2 separate regions of the Homo sapiens genome follow, and region 2 is linked to region 1. The links come from fine-mapping of genetic effects on gene expression. Tissue or cell type: macrophages. Region 1 holds a variant in brackets; the other region holds the start of a gene. All regions are shown on one strand. Distances are from middle to middle.

Region 1 (8,000 bases):
CCTGAGTAGCTGGGACCACAGGCGCGTGCCACCATGCTGGGCTAATTTTTGTATTTTTTGTAGAGATGGGGTCTCGCTGTGTTGCCCCAGGCTGGCCTCAAATTCCTGGGCTCAAGTGATCCACTCTGTAATCCCAGGCCTTGGTCTCCCAAGATGCTTCCCAGGACGCTGCTCGGGCCTGCTGTGGTCACAGGAGCTGAGTTTTATGATGCCTGAGCACAGGTCACAAGACAAATATTAGCCAGTGCTGTGTTGTTGGAGCGGAGTGGGTGGCCCTCAGGGCAGGTGGGCAAGGGGTAGAGGCGAGGTGGGCCAGTAGCCCATGGTCAGTGCAGCCGTGTCAACACTGGGAAGTGTGTGGGCCCCCAGCGGGGCAGGACATGTGTCCAAGAAAGATGTCCTTGAGTCCTGGCACCAGTTCACGGTTAGAAACTAACCATGTGCTACAGACGACACCCCTGCAGGGAGGGCTGCACCCACCCAGAACACACTTGTCAGGCACGTGCCACGTGCCGGGCCGGCTGGGGCCTCAGTGACCCCGCAGGGCACTAACCCTGCCTCTTCTCTCAAGAAAGTTACCCCTGGAGCTGGGGGAGGGGCTGGGTGTGAGAGTGGTGGGCCGGGGTGGCAGCTGAGCAGAGCCAGTATGGATGGGGCTGGGGGCACAGGGAGGCCTTGCCACAGGGAGAGGCCCAGTGCAGGGGCTGTGCCCATCAGAGGGCGTGGGCACAAGAGGCCAGGAGGGCAGTGGGGCAGGTGGCCCAGCCAGGCACAAGCCTTGTCGTTCGTGATCAGAGGCCTGGAGGGGTTTGGGGGCAGGACCTCACCTTCGGCTGCCCAGGTGAGAGGGGCCGCTCGCCCAGCTGCAGGGACGGCGCAGGAGGGAAGAGGCACCAGCACTTTGAATGCGGAGCTCACAGCACTTGCTCACAGGTGGAGAGGGTACGAGAAAAGAAGAGGACAGGGAATCCTGGGGGTTTGGGTCTGAGCAACAGAAGAGCAGAGTTGCCCCTCGTTGAAGGGGCCAGCCATGAAGGAGCAGGTTCCAGGATCACGCATGGACTCTGAAGGTGGGGAGCCGACAGGAAGGGCTGAGCTGACAGGTGAAAGTATGAGTCCAGGCAAAGCTGCCTCCCTTTCGAGGAAGGCTGCTCAGCCCCAGCCAGGGAGCAGGAGGACAGACAATGGCTTTGACAAGCGACCGGTCAGAGGACCTGGGAAGCCTGGCCAGTGTGGAGCCCGTGGCCACTAATGTGGCCTCCCCGTCTGTGTGCTGCTGGGGAGCCCTCAGGGGGAAGGGGTCACATGACAACACCAGCCAAGCTCATCTTGCAAAAGCTGAGAGAGAGGGGAGCTCCCACACCCCTGGCTGAGCACCTCTGCCAGACCCTCTGATGGGTTCTGCATGAATATCCTAAAGAAGGCCAGTGCGTGTGTGTGTTGCTGTCAGAGCCCAGCTCCATTCAGGAAGGGCAGGAAGGGTCCAACGCAAAGGAGAGCTCTTTGCTGTGTGCCAGGCAGCAGCCTCCAGAGCGAGGCCCGCCATCTCCAGCAGGATGTGCGGCCTCCAAGGGAGGCCCCCGTACGCAGCAGGATGTGCGGCCTCCGAGGGAGGCCCCCGTATGCAGCAGGATGTGCGGCCTCCGAGGGAGGCCCCCGTACGCAGCAGGATGTGCGGCCTCCGAGGGAGGCCCCCGTACGCAGCAGGATGTGCGGCCTCCGAGGGAGGCCCCCGTACACAGCAGGATGTGCGGCCTCCGAGGGAGGCCCCCGTACGCAGCAGGATGTGTGTTCGGGAGTGAGGGAGGCCCCTGTATGCAGCAGGATGTGTGTTCAGGAGTGAGGGATGTGCGGCCCCCGAGGGAGGCCCCGTGCGCAGCAGGATGTGTGTTCGGGAGTGAGTGCTCTCTGGACATTCCCCTTGAATAACAGACGTGGCCCCTGTTGGCCTCCCCTGAATCGAAGGGCCCACCACCTCGGTGCACGTTAATCCATGCCAGCTCCCAGCTCTGGCTTTTCTCACCTGATGTCAGAAGGAAAGGGAAAAAAATCGGTGCTTTCTGAAGACAGGTGCAGCCTTGATCTTCCCTGGAAGGGGCCCAGTGGGTGTTCGCTTTGTCGGAGGCCCCGTCTCGGCAGTGCCTCACTCCTCTTGCACAGGGAAGGCAGCGGGGGTTCTGTGGTTTGCCAGGGGAGCCTGGGACAGTGACTTAGGCAGTTGGAGACGAGCGCCAGAACCGGGGCGTGGGCCATGGCCGTGAAGACGCACACTGGGCCATGGCCCTTGGTGCCCAGCAGGGTGGGAGGGGCGGGTGGAGGGTGATGCCAGGGCTCCATTCTGAGCAGTGAGAGACTTGCAGTTCCATCGGCGCAAATCAAGAGGGCGCTGCAGGCTGAAGGGAAAGTAGACGGTGCCCGCAGTTCATAGGGCAGGGAGAGTTTGGGGTGCAGGTGAAGAGCCGGCAGCTGGACAGCCAGCCTGGACCTAGGAGAGTGAGGGGCCGGCATCAGGGAAACCACAAAGCATGATAGGAGGAAGCCCGGGGCATGTAAGGCTGGGGTGGGAAAGTGCGTGTACAGAGAGTGCGTAGACGGAGAGTGGGGTGGCCACGAGAAGACCCTGGTCCCTGGTGGGCGCCCATCCAGAGCCTGCTCATCCAGCCGCTGTGGAGACAGGGGCGTCACGCGACTAGCAAGGGGTCCTCTCACAGCGCTTGGCTTTCTGCTAAGAATCCGTATTTTTTCTTTTCAGAAAAAAAAAAGGCAGAAAAAGTTGTCGTAGGGAAAAAAACGTTCTTTCCGCTTTTTAAACCTACATCCCCCTTCTGTTCCCCAGTGACTTCTAGGATCTCCAGCTGTTCCTGTCACAGCACTGAACTGTCCTAAAAGAGAGGCAAATTGTGTCTGTTCCCTTGGACCAAGGCATTTGGTCCTAAAGATGATGTTTTAGTTCTACAACTTTTCCCGTTCCCTCTTAGGGACTAGAAACATCTACCAATGAAAGTTTCACATGTGTTGAAAAGAGCAGGCTTCGGCTTGTCCGCTGCACTCGGCCCTGGGGCGCTCAGATTCAGAAAGGCCGCCAGCCATCGGGTGTGATCTAGAGCGGCGTTTTCAGCCAGGGTCCCAGTGGTCACCGTAAGCGAGAGGCTGTGAGGCCTCCTACCTTTCCCTCTCTGGAGTCCTGTGACTCACCGTGTCCTTACGAGACCCCCGATGCGTCGTGCGCCTCTAGCAGTGGGGAGGATTCTGGCAGGCATTCTGGGCTTCCCCCGTGAGCCAGTGGCCTGCCGTCTCCCAGCACTCTGCTATTCCAAGGCCTCTGCTCTGACGGTTCGAAAAGGGATGGTCCCTGTTTCTGATGCCAATTGCACGGTTTTGTCTTAACCTTTCTTTTTTCTGTTGGTGACTCAAGTCTCACTGCTGCTCCACAATCATTTTCCAGCCCCAGTGACTGTTATTGTCCCTTCTCCCTCTCGGCAGGAGCTGGTGGTGGCTCTGAGTCATCTTGTGGTTCAGTATGAAAGCAATTTCTGCACCGTGGCCCTGCAGTTCATAGAAGAGGAAAAGAACTACGCCTTGCCTTCTCCAGCAACCACAGGTATGGCGTCTTCTCCTGTGAACCCGCAGAGCACCTCGCCTGGCGGTTCTAGTGCAGGCCGCGGCCCAGTCTTGCTCACCCTCGCAGAGTCTAAGCGCAGGTTTCTCAGATACCTGCCGCAAGGGGTCCCTGTTTTTCTCATCTTTTTAGGCACCTGCCAGATTTAAAAGGGCAGGAAAGAGGGCCACACTGACCCTCTTACATTTTTCCTTTCTTTTTACCCTTTTTGGAAATTAAACTCACAGAGACCTTGAAGTATGACAAAACTTCTGCAGTAGGAGCTTGCGGAAAAGCGCAGGGGCCGTCTTCCTGCGATGAGTAATTTCATCACACTGCTCTTGGCTCCGTGGCTCGGTGAGTC[A/C]TGTCAGGCGTGCTTTCTCACACGTGTCGTTTTGACTGGAGAGTACAGTTCCTATCTCATCGCTGCCGGCAGCCCCTCCCGCTTCCACACAGCCGTCTCTGCCGTGCAGGGGCTTGTCATCAGCAGTGAGGCCTCACTGCTTCTAGGAAGCCCAGGAGGGGAGAAGGGTGAGCCAGACTGAGTGTGGACGGTCATTGCTCTGCTGCGGCTTCCCGGGGAGCACGGCTCACGGCCCACGTCACCATGCACCTCGTGTGCACTCGGACAGGCCGCAGCCACCAGCCTCTCCCCTGTTGTCTTTTGTAATTTAATATGCACAGAGCCACAAGCGGTTGTTGTTTGTCCAGTGCTATCCCGCAGAGCCTCCGCTCACGTCTGAGTCTCCCTGAGCTGTGCAGCCCCTGCTCTGACATTTGTTGCAGCACAGGTAGCAGCTGCCGTCACCGAGTGTCCCAGCTGCTGAGTGTCAGAAGACACGCTGGCCTCCACCTGGAAGCCCATTGTAATTTGTCTTTCTCCTTCTTTCCCAGAGGGAGGGAGTTTGACCCCAGTGCGAGACAGCCCGTGCACCCCCAGACTTCGTTCTGTGAGCTCCTATGGAAACATCCGTGCTGTCGCCACAGCCAGGAGCCTCAACAAATCTTTGCAGAACCTGAGTTTGACAGAGGAATGTAAGATCCTGGAAATCGGGTTATTGGATTGGGAGAGATTGGGGTTGTTTTTTCTGAAACACTGTATCTGAGTAAGCACCACTCTGCCCCTGCCCCTTCGTCTAAGTGCGTGCCCTGAAGTCCCATCTGCCAACATGGTGATGAGTCACCCTTCCAGACGTGAGCATGGCAAGGAGGCGTAGGCCAGCCCCCAGAATAGCCAGCGGGCCCGTTACCAATGCGGCAGGGAGCTCAAGCGCAGCCGCAGTTGAGGCGGTGGCTCCTTGGAGGGCTGTGCCCTGCCCCCGTCTCCCAGTAACCTGTGGTCTGCGGGTGGGGAGCTTGGCTCCCAGGGAGATCAGTGAGTGCCTGTGCCTGTGTGTGCGCCGGGGCGTGTGTGCCAGGGTGTGTGCGCCAGGGTGCGTGTGTACCAGGGTGTGTGTGCGCCGGGTGTGTGTGTGCGCCAGGTGTGTGCGCGCGCCAGGTGTGTGTGCGCCAGGGTGTGTGTGTGCTGGGTGTGTGTGCACAAGGGTGTGTGCATGCCAGGGTGTGTGTGTGTGTGTACAAGGGTGTGTGTGTGCCAGGGTGTGTGTACTGGGTGTGTATACGCGCCAGGTTGTGTCTGTACGCGCCAGGGTGTGTGCGCCAGGGTGTGTGTGTATGAGGGTGTGTGTATGTCGGGTGTGTGTACATGCCAGGGTGTGTGCGCACCAGGGTGTGTGTGTACCAGGGTGTGTTTGTGCCTGGGTGTGCTGAGCTTTATTTAGAAGAAAATATGTATCTCAGTCATGCCATTAACTGTAAGACCAAAAGGAGGGTCCCGGGAGCACCCCACTGACCCCGTTGCGTCTCGGGCAGCTGGTGGCGCGGTGGCGTTCTCCCCCGGAAACCTCAGCACCAGCAGCAGCGCCAGCAGCACCCTGGGCAGCCCCGAGAATGAGGAGCATATCCTGTCCTTCGAGACCATCGACAAGATGCGCCGCGCCAGCTCCTACTCCTCCCTCAACTCCCTCATCGGTGAGTCCGCCTGCCCCTTTCTGCTTCCGAGGGGCCCCGAGGGTCTCCTCCCCACACAGAGCAGCACAGACCTGTGTCTGCATCAGGTCAGTGGGTGTCAAAACTGTCTGTTCAAAAGAAAGAATAAAGGTCAACAGGACTGCGAGGCAGGGAGAACGTTTTGCTGGGGCAAGCGGGAAAGTTGACATCACTGTTGTGTTGGGGTAGTATTTTACAGGCTGCTCCGGAGCCATCGGAGCTGGCCAGTTTGGCTGGGTGGGAAGGCTGCCAGAACCTTCCATCTTTGTTCCATAGACGGGTGAGAGTTCTTCATGGTGCTGGACACCCTGGTGATGCAGAACGGTGGTTCTCAGCCGGGGGTGGTTTTGCCCCCCACGAGCAACTGGGGTACAGTAGGGGTGCTCCTTGTCCCAGTGGGTGAGGCCAGGAAGCTGCTCACATCCCCTGGTGCCCAGGACAGCCCCCACACAGTGTCCGCAGTGAGAGGCGGAGGGCCCTGCGGTCGGGCTGGGGGCTGTCATCCCCGCCCTGCTCACCTGCGGAATCTCCACACAACTTTCCCTCCATCCCAGCAGCTTGACGCAGCACTGCCTGGAAATGGAAATCTGACGGAAGGGTCAGATTCTTCTCTTGTTCTGCCATGAATGGTGTGTGCCTGGGTCCTACCACCAGGATTGCTGTTGTAAAACAGGAGAAGCAGGAATTCACCGTGTTTTCTTATTGTGTAGCTATGTTCATCTTCACACTGCTGGTAACAGATTTAGGGCTTAACCAAATGAGCCTCATCTCCTCTTGTTCTGACTATCCAGAGTGGCTTACCGGCTTCATTTGAATTTTTTTCATGTTAAGGAGCATTTTAGCCATGTAAAAATTTACAGAGACTTATATAAGAGCGCTGCGTGTGTGTGTGTGTGTGTTGTGTTCCCAGCTTAAGGAATTACAGAGGTCGAGCCCCAGACCCTACCCCGGTCCCATTCCCTCTGGTGACATTACACTTTCCCTCCCTGGCCATGAGCCCTGGCACACACGTGGTGCCCACTTAGAGGCCTTTACCTCCTATTGGCGCCGTCGCACGATGCGTGGCCCGCAAAGCCCGTTTCTTTGGCTCTGACTTCAATATGTATCTTTGATGGTCATCTAGGTTTTGTTCCTTCACCTCCGCGATCTGCCGTGACTCCATTATCCATTCTCCTGTCTGGGGACAGTGAGGCCGGTTCTAGTTTCTTCTTGCCTTTTGTTCCTTTTCTTAATAAGCAAACTCAGAATTCAGCCCCTGCCACCATGGAGCCCCACATCCAACACACCCTCACTCGCTGCACCCAGCTCTGCTGGGCCCCAGCCTACCCGGCCCCCAGCCTGGGCATCGGTGGGGAAGCTCTTCTCCGGCATATGGTGGCCGCTCCCCTCTCATTCAGAGCCCCCATCTGGCAGCACCTTCCCAGAAGCCTCCCCAGCCCCACGCCCCACCTGGAATCAGGCTTCCCCAGCTGCCCTCTGACCCTGCTCCCTTTTCCTGCTTTATTTTTCTCCTGAGGACTGTGGACTGCAGACGTGCTGTACGTGTAACTTGTTCATTGGCCCGGCCCATCTCTCTCCCCTGGAGCTTGAGAGCCGCACGTGCAGGAACCCAGCCTTGTTAACCACTGTCTCCTCCCACCCTGTCCACACCCAGTGCCTGGTACGCAGTAGGTGCTCAATACACATAAACGGGCACGTGTGTGGTGCGTGTTCTTCAGCGTGGATACACGTGAGTGCCTCTCGCCACCTTGCCTCAGAGTGAAGCTGCTGCGTGAACGGTGCCTGCACCTTCAGCTTTTGTAGATGTCGCCCCAGGCCTTCCACGGGATCCTCTGTTCTAAAGCGCAGGCGCCCCCATCTCGCCACTCTCTACCACGCCGGTCTTGGCCAGCCTTTGTCTGTCTGATAGACACACCTGGTGTCTCCTTGTGGCATGAATTTGCATCTGCCTTGATTGCAGTGAGGTTACAGCCTTGCAGCCTTACAGACTCGCCTTGTGTCGTTTATCTTTCTCTGAGTAGTTTGTAATCAGCATTCATCACAGTTCTGGGTGCTGATTCCTGGCTGAATATATCCATCGAAAATGCATCTAATCTATGACTTTTTATGATGCCTTTGGTGCCACACAAGCTTAATCTTTTAGTTTCTCTTTTTCTTTATAACTTGGGCCTTTTGTGTCTTGTTTTTCCTATTCTCAATGTCCTAAACATATTCTCCTACATTTTCTTCCAAGATTTAAAATTTTCCTTTTTTGTGTTCATGTCTTAAGTATATCCTGAACCACATTTTGTCTCTGTGGTGAGGTGGGGATCCAGGTTGTATTTTTTCTTTATGCCACCCCAGACCCTTCATC
Region 2 (8,000 bases), 350 kb before region 1:
ACTGTAAGAGACTCATGGAGCAGGTTGTTGCCAACACCCTCCCCCACTTTCTTTCTTAATTTCTGCATTTTTTAAAAATTAAGATGGGATCTTGGTCTACTGACTAGGCTGGAGTGCCGTGGTGCAATCATAGCTCACTGAAGCCTCAAATTCCTGGGCTCAAATTCCTGCTTCAACCTCACAAGTAGCTGGGACCACAGGTATAAATATTAAATTTTTTTTTTTGGTAGAGACAGGGTCTCACTATTTTGCCCAGGCTGGTCATGACCGTTTTCATAGCTTGAATCAAACCAGGTTTGTGTGTTTTCTGAGATTCCTAACATTTTGTTTTTAAGATTAAAGTATTTTAGCTGGACACGGTGGCTCATGCCTGTAATCCCAGCACTTTGGGAGGCCAAGGCGGGTGGATCGCCTGAGGTCAGGAGTTCAAGACCAGCCTGGCCAACATGGTGAAACCCCGTCTATACTAAAATTACAAAAATTAGCCAGGCGTGGTGGCGGGCACCTGTAATCCCAGCTACTCGGGAGGCTGAGGCAGGAAAATCGCCTGAACCCGGGAGGCGGAGGTTGCAGCGAGCCAAGATTGCGCCACTGCACTCCAGCCTGGGCGACAAGAGCAAGACTCTGTCTCAAAAAAAAAAAAAAAAAAAAAGGATCTTATTTAAAGTCTCTGTGGACAATAGATGTCCTTGCTTGTGAAGAACTGGAGACATTGGAAATTGGAACTGCAGCCCCGAGTGGCCAGCCCACCACATGCCACAGTCATGGAATCACCCAGGTGAGACAAGTCAGCCCTTGAATTTCCAGGCTGCCATTACTCACAGATGCTCACTGCCTTTCAAAAACCTAGAGCCACTTCCAAATGCTTGGCTGGGACTTGAAGAGAATCATCCGTGACATACTAGAACGAGGTTTCTTTTAAATGTCAAGATGCCATAAAATGATTCAGGCCCATCCTTGAACCTTCAGGGTGAGAGCTGAGCAGTCACAAGCCCCTTTCTGGTCTTTACATGAATCACAGAATTTCAAACTGGAAGGATCCTTAGAAATTCGCCTTCTCCAAGTTCCTGATGTCACAGACGTGGAGACCAAGGGTGGAGGAGGGCAGAGGCTTTGCTGAAATCTGCAGGAATTGGTGGCAGGTTGGGGACCATAGAATGTGTGTGTGTCTTCATCCTCAGTCCAGGACCCGAGTGGACCCCTGGCTCGGGGTCACATGTGTTAAACAGTAGAGGGTGTGTTTTGTTCTGCTGTTTTGAGGAGAAGGTGAGTCTCTTTCTGCTTTGTCAGATGGAAGTCTGGACAATTACTTCATAGCATTCATTCATTTGCCACACATATTGATTAAGGGCCCAATATGGGACCCGAACTGAATCACTGCAGGAGACTTTAGAGCGAATATTGTCTAAGACCTCCAAGTCTGCCTGGCTGTGAACTATCCTCAGAGCGACCTGATTTAAGAATTCAGATTCTGGCTCTCTTCCTTGGCGCTGCCTATGGAGGGGGCAGCCATCTCCTCCTTGGCATCATGGCCGCCCTCAGACCCCCTGTGAAGCCCAAGATCATCAAAAAGAGAACCAAGAAGTTCATCCGGCACCAGTCAGACCGATGTGTCACGATTAAGCGTAACTGGCAGAAACCCAGAGGTATTGACAACAGGGTTGGTAGAAGGTTCAAGGGCCAGATCTTGATGCCCAACATTGGTTATGGGAGCAACAAAAAAACAAAGCACACGCTGCCCACTGGCTTCTGGAAGTTCAGTCTACAACGTCAAGGAGCTGGAAGTGCTGCTGATGTACAACACTTCTTACTGCGCTGAGATCGCTCACAGTGTTTCCTCCAGGAACCGCGAAGCCACCACAGAAAGAGCCGCCCAGCTGGCCATCAGAGTCACTGACCCCCATGCCAGTCTGCGCAGTGAAGAAAACGAGCAGACAGCTCATGTGCATGTTTTGTGTTTAAATAAAACTGTAAAAACTGCAAAAAAAAAAAAATGCAGATTCTGAATCCCGGTCTCCCTGCTCCCCGATCTGGGGCTCTGGGTTGGAAGCTGGGCATCCTGAATTTTAGTTTCCTGGGCGATTCTGACCACCTGGTGGGTTTGGACTTCAACGTGCTCACTGACACCTTCGTTTAGAATTTCAGATACGAAAAATGGATTTCCCAAGGTCACACACGTTATAGGTGAGGAAACTGAGTCTCACACAGATTCAGTGGGCTTTCCCAGGTCACAGAGCTAGTTAGGGATGAATGGGTTTAGCGTTGCTGCTTTTCTGTAACTGTGACTTCCTGCAAGAGCTGCTGGAATGCAGCTGTCTACAGCCACCGGAGGTGGGGAGCAAGGTGACAAGGCAGAGGACAGGAGTGATTTTGTTGCCTTCAGATGAGAACGGGGTCTTCCTAAGACCCTGCATCCCTGAAGCCTCTGCTGGTAACTGTGAGGATAGTCTCTGCCAACAGAGAGGGTGCCCTGAGTTTCAATAGGAGAATTGGCTCCATGGGGTGTAATAACCAAACGAATGTGCGGAATGACAATGATTTAATCCTGTAGCCTTTATTAAAGGCTTGCTTTGTGCTGGGTGAGAAAGGTCTGGGATTGTATTCTTCATTCTCATTTTGAAAGGAACACAAATGCCATCAAGATTTTGATATGGATGGCCACATGTGTCTAAGCCCCGGAAAACCATCCTGAGAGATCAAGACCATCTTGGCCAGGATGGTCTTGAACTCCTGACCTCATGATCCACCCACCTCAGCCTCCCAAAGTGCTGGGATTACAGGCGTGCACCACCACGCCTGGCCTCGTTTTATTCTTATTTATTTATTTATTTATTTATTTATTTTTGAGATGGAATCTCACTCTGTCACCCAGGCTGGAATGCAGTGGTGTAATCTCGGCTCACTGCAACCTCTGCCTCCCAGGTTCCAGCTCTTCTCCTGCCTCAGCCTCCCGAGCAGCTGAGACTACAGACGCACGCCACCACGCCCAGCTAATTTTTGTATTTTTATTAGAGACGGCGTTTCACCATGTTGGCCAGGCTGGTCTCGAACTCCTGAACTCGTGATCCACCCTCCTCGGCTTCCCAAAGGGCTAGGATTATAGGCGTGAGCCACGGTGCCCTGCCTACATTTGGTTTTATAGTCCACCTTACACAGTTCTCTATACATTGTAAATGAGCCAAATTTCCTGAATTGAAAAAGAGAGTCACACAAGAGGCTTGCCTCCACGCACAGACATGTAGTTTTAGATGTCTGCACGTGAAGCTATATCAAAATAAGAATAAACTACTGCTACCAAGAAGTGGGAAAAAAATTTAAAAAGGATAAACTGCTCAGAAAACGAAACAGATTAAACAAAAAATTGTATTAGATGAAATTTTTTTTCATCGAATCTTGCTCCAGACTCTTCTTCTGTTGCTTCAGACCCTTCTTCATCTGAAGAGTCTTGCTCTGTCTCCCAGGCTGGAGTGCAGTGGCACGATCTTGGCCCACTGCAACCTCCGCCTCCCGGGTTCAAGCAATTCTCCTGCCTCAGCCTCCTGAGTAGCTGGGATTACAGGCGCGCACCACCACGCCCAGCTAATTTGTGTATTTTTAGTAGGGACGGGGTTTCACCATGTTGGCCAGGCTGGTCTCGATCTCTTGACCTCGTGATCTGCCCGCTTCGGCCTCCCAAAGTGCTGGGATTACAGGCGTGAGCCACGGCGCCCGGCCTTTCACTTGGTTCTCTATGAAAAAATTAAAGAGAAAATCTGATTGACACTGTGGAGGACACTACACTCCAAAAAAAAAAGTACTATATTTTCTAATATTATCAGTGCTTTTTAATATTTTCTAATATTATCAGTGAAGCTTTTGCCGCTTTTTCAAAATCTGGAAGAAACAAGGCGGTTGATTCCTTTAATTTCAGGAGCATGTAACTTCATTTATAATGACAATGTTTTTGAAAAAATAAATTAAACCGACAGTTTCATTTGTAGGATTGACTTTAATAACACGCCTCTACTGAACAAATGGCGATTAACTGGGGAAAACGGAATTATGGTAACCGAGGTAACGGGGTCGGGGACTCTTTCTCCTTCGCTGCATGCTGGGTGGCGGGGAGAGACCGCTCTGAGGAGGTTTGGTCTGTCGGCCACGCCGTAGGCCGCGGTGCATTCTGGGTCCTGGCAATATGGCGTCCTCCTTGATGGGCTGATGAGATGAGTTTCACTGTAGCTCCAAACCAGAGGGCAAAGCTCCCATGACCCAATAAGCCCACATTGTCCCTTTCCTCCGTGGTTCCGTGTCGCCCGTTTCTCAGGACTCGTTCTCAGGCAGGAGAGAGCCTCGGGGCTGAAGGCCAGGACCAGCCAGGCCGCGCGGACCTGAGGTTGAGGAACCGGGTGCAGGCGAGCACGATGGGCCGGTCGTGGCTCTGGTTGCAGCAGCTCAGACGAGTGCGGGACCCGCAGGGCTGAGAGTGGCTGGAGGAGACCCAGGGCCCTTTGAACCCGATCCCTTGGCCGGAGACCTCAGCCCAGTCGGCCCAGTGGGCGAACCGGCACCAAGAGCGGCCTGCCTGTCTTCGGAACTGCTGAGGCGGTGGAGGCCGAGAGCAGGGTCATCGTGAGGCCTGAAGTCTCTTACGCTTTTGGCAGCTCCCCTCGCAGCCCCTCTGGAAACGTACAGCCTCAGGAGCAGCCAGTGGCTTGGGACCTGGGGTGGTGTGTGTCTGCGGAGCTTCTTGGGCTGCCCCATTTCCTAGCGGCCCCCACCTCCCCACTTCCCGCTCAGAGTTAGAGATAAGGATCTCAGACTTTTGCCTGAGTAAGGGTCTCCGCACTCTTTATCCATTTGGTTTTCGATTTCCCGTTTTTGTTTCTTATTTCACCAATTCTGGTACACGCTAGTTTTTAAGGCTGGAGGTTCTCGAGCGCTTGCTGCCAAGGACTCCCCCACCCCCTCCCCCACTGATGGAGTCCGAAATGCTGCAATCGCCTCTTCTGGGCCTGGGGGAGGAAGATGAGGCTGATCTTACAGACTGGAACCTACCTTTGGCTTTTATGAAAAAGAGGCACTGTGAGAAAATTGAAGGCTCCAAATCCTTAGCTCAGAGCTGGAGGATGAAGGATCGGGTAAGTGGATTCTGAAGGCACCCCTTGAACTTGGTAGTTTCCCCAACAAAGAAAGTTTACAGCCCGAAAAGTGTCCTTGGGAAAGCGCCGACATTTCCCCCTAGCCACACGTTGTAAGTCAACTAGAAAGCAAAAGCCATTTCAGACTGCAGTTTTTGGTTGAAAATGGAAAATGCTGTTTTGGTTAGTCATTATTCACTGGGTAGTGTTAATTCAATTCCAACTAAGTTCTAATTCAGATAATAAAAGTTAAGCAAATTTGAAAATAGAGCATTGCGAGTATTTACATGCTCTTTGGCATACTACTTAGTTCTGTAAACACTTAGAGGAAGGACAACGTGCGATATAATCTTTATACCCACATGATTAGTCTACTTTTTAAAATATCCAAGCTGGGTGAAGTGCAGAAGTCTGATATACTATGCTAGGAAATGAGATTACTGGAAAATGTTCAACTAGTAACAAATTAGTGCAAAGTTATTATAAAGTTACACTGAACTTCATTCTAGTCTTCTAAACAATTTCTCTTGAAGCTAGATTTTCCTCCTTTTATGTAGTGTCCTGTTGCTGTAACTTGGAAACAGGATTTCTTTAATCGTGAGTTAGGGTATGAGGCGTCGAGACTTGGGTGCAGGTTTTAGGGTGTCCGCATGGTGTTTGGAGTGTGGAGAGTGACTCACAAGCAGCTGGTAGGAAAGAAAACAGCCGAATTTTGTTGGATTTGTCCTTCATAAAACACCCATCTATTTCCTGGCCTCAAAAGCAAAAGGGTAGTACTGCTTCTCCTCTATGCACACTTATAATTTGTCTTTTTGTAAGTTATTTTCTCCCTCCAGGCTGCTTTTATTTGCACATTTCAGTGGTATAAAAGAGGAAGTTGGTGTTACAATGTTTGATTTTCTCTAGGCTTATGTATATGTTTATGGAATATTATTGTTTTTTAGTATATGATGTTGAACATATATAAGATTACACTTCTGGGCTGGGCGCGGTGGCTCACGCCTGTAATCTCAGCACTTTGGGAGGCCAAGGCAGGCCTCCCAAAGGCAGGCGGATCACCTGAGGTCAGGAGTTTGAGACCAGCCCGGCCAACATGGTGAAACCCTGTCTGTACTAAAAATACAAAAATTAGCTGGGCTTGGTGGCAGGTGCCCGTAATCCCAGCTACTCGAGAAGCTGAGGCTGGAGAATCGCTTGAACCTGGGAGGCAGAGGTTGCAGTGAGCCGAAATCGCACCATTGCACTCCAGCCTAGGGGACAGAGTGAGACTGTGTCTCAAAAATAAATAAATAAATAAAACTTCTGGTAACTCTAGTCAGTCAGTCAGTAGTAACCAGTTAGCTACTGACTTGGCTTACTTCTAAAAGGTTAGGAAAATTTGTTTCATCCAAAAGCATTTTAAGGAGTTAAATAAGTTAGTCATTGGGGGAGGTTGTATAAATTCTATCTTATGGACATCTTTAGTAGTAACTATATAGTTAAAAGCTTTTGTGGTTGCTATACATATATGAAAAGACTTTTTAAAAAATTCTTTGTGGAGGGCAGTTTTTTTGTTGTTGTTATTTTGAAATGTGGTTCTCTCTGCTGTCCTAAACCTATGTTCCAACAGTTTGAAACTGATTAATGGGTATACGTTTGACCTTTTAATTAAAACATTAATTTGTGAATGATCAACATTCCCTAATAAGCTTTTCACAGGTTGTTAAGAGAAACAAAAGTTCTGTGACTCTTAGTGACTACTGAGATTGCTGCTTAGAAAGGAGCTGGGGAGAAAGTTTGCTGTATCTGTTTTTCGGTGGAGAAAATCAGCAGCTAACATCTTCAGTTGAGTGTGTGGGAGTTTGGAATCTTGTCATCTCTTCCCTCTTCCAAAGGTCAGGTCCTTTGGAATCTTGTCATCTCTTCCCTCAAGGACCGTATCACACATGCTATAGGACAGAAGTTGCAAACTCAAATGATATTGAGTGGGGATGGTAGCATAAGAGAATGAAACAGGCCACATTTAAGAAGAATAATGGCATAGGTTCAAAGATAAAGACAAATGGCAGCTGACATTTGGCACAGTGTGTGTGACAGTTTCTGGAGGGTGGGAACAGGGGCTCCCTGATGCCATAACTGAAGGGGCAACTGGGCTATGGCCAGGCCTCTCTCTTTGTCTTTGAGAAGTCAGCAAACTTTTTTTTTCTTTTATTGTAAATATTCATACTAATTCAGATTTATTACCAAACACACTGTAGTCCAACACTGCAGGCTGAACAACCCCATTTGTGGAGTGTTTTTCTGTTTCTTTTTTTTTTTTTTTTTTTTTGAGACAGGGTCTTGCTCTGTCATCCAGGCTGGAGTACAGTGGTGAGATCACACGGCTCACTGCAGCCTCGACCTCCTGGGCCTGAGTGATCCTCTCACCTCAGCCTCCCCAGTAGCTGAGACTATAAGTGTGCGCCAGTGTGTCTGGGGTTGGGGAGTCTCACTGTGTTGCCCAGGCTGGTCTTGAACTCCTGGGATCAAGCAATCCTCCTGCCTTGTCCTCCAAAAATGCTAGGATTACAGGCATCAGCCAACACGCTCAGCCTGGGGTGGTTTTTTTTTTTTTTTTTTTTTTTTTTTGAGATGGAGTTTCATTCTTGTTGCCCAGGCTGGAGTGCAGTGGTGTGGTCTTGACTCACTGCAACCTCCGCCTCCCAGGATCAAGCTATTCTCCTGCCTCAGCCTCCCAAGTAGCTGGGATTACAGGCGCCTGGCTAGTTTTTTTTGTATTTTTAGTGGAGATGGGGTTTCACCATGTTGGCCAGGCTGGTCCTGAACTCCTGACCTCGGGTCGTTCACCTGCCTCAGCCTCCCAAAGTGCTGGGATTACAGGTGTGAGCCACAGCACCTGGCCCT

Alleles and levels. Alleles are on the strand shown, and positions count from the first base shown. SD is a standard deviation of normalised expression in the study named.
As copies of A replace C in region 1, the expression in macrophages of the gene that starts at base 4,164 in region 2 goes up (large effect, 1.0 SD a copy in Nedelec 2016).

What was found. PIP is the estimated chance that this variant, and not a neighbour inherited with it, causes the effect.
Region 2: RPTOR starts here. The variant in region 1 is fine-mapped to the expression of RPTOR in macrophages (Nedelec 2016, PIP 0.95). The same link has a PIP of 0.9 or more in monocytes, monocytes after LPS, monocytes after Pam3CSK4 and monocytes after R848.

What each region holds. Positions count from the first base shown.
Region 1 is chr17:80,888,237-80,896,236 of GRCh38, forward strand. RPTOR (regulatory associated protein of MTOR complex 1) reads left to right here. Exons shown (of 34, transcript NM_020761.3): 18 at 3,484-3,601; 19 at 4,493-4,633; 20 at 5,471-5,629. It overlaps LOC124904075, which reads right to left and starts at 3,935. Exons shown (of 2, transcript XM_047437253.1): 1 at 2,024-3,935; 2 at 1-212. The coding sequence starts at 2,508. The coding sequence ends at 188. The variant A/C (reference allele first, on the strand shown) is at 3,963.
Region 2 is chr17:80,540,675-80,548,674 of GRCh38, forward strand. It overlaps RPTOR (regulatory associated protein of MTOR complex 1), which reads left to right and starts at 4,164. Exons shown (of 34, transcript NM_020761.3): 1 at 4,164-5,117. The coding sequence starts at 4,956. It also overlaps the pseudogene RPL32P31. RefSeq lists enhancers at 3,858-4,684, 4,018-4,377, 4,658-4,757, 4,685-5,511.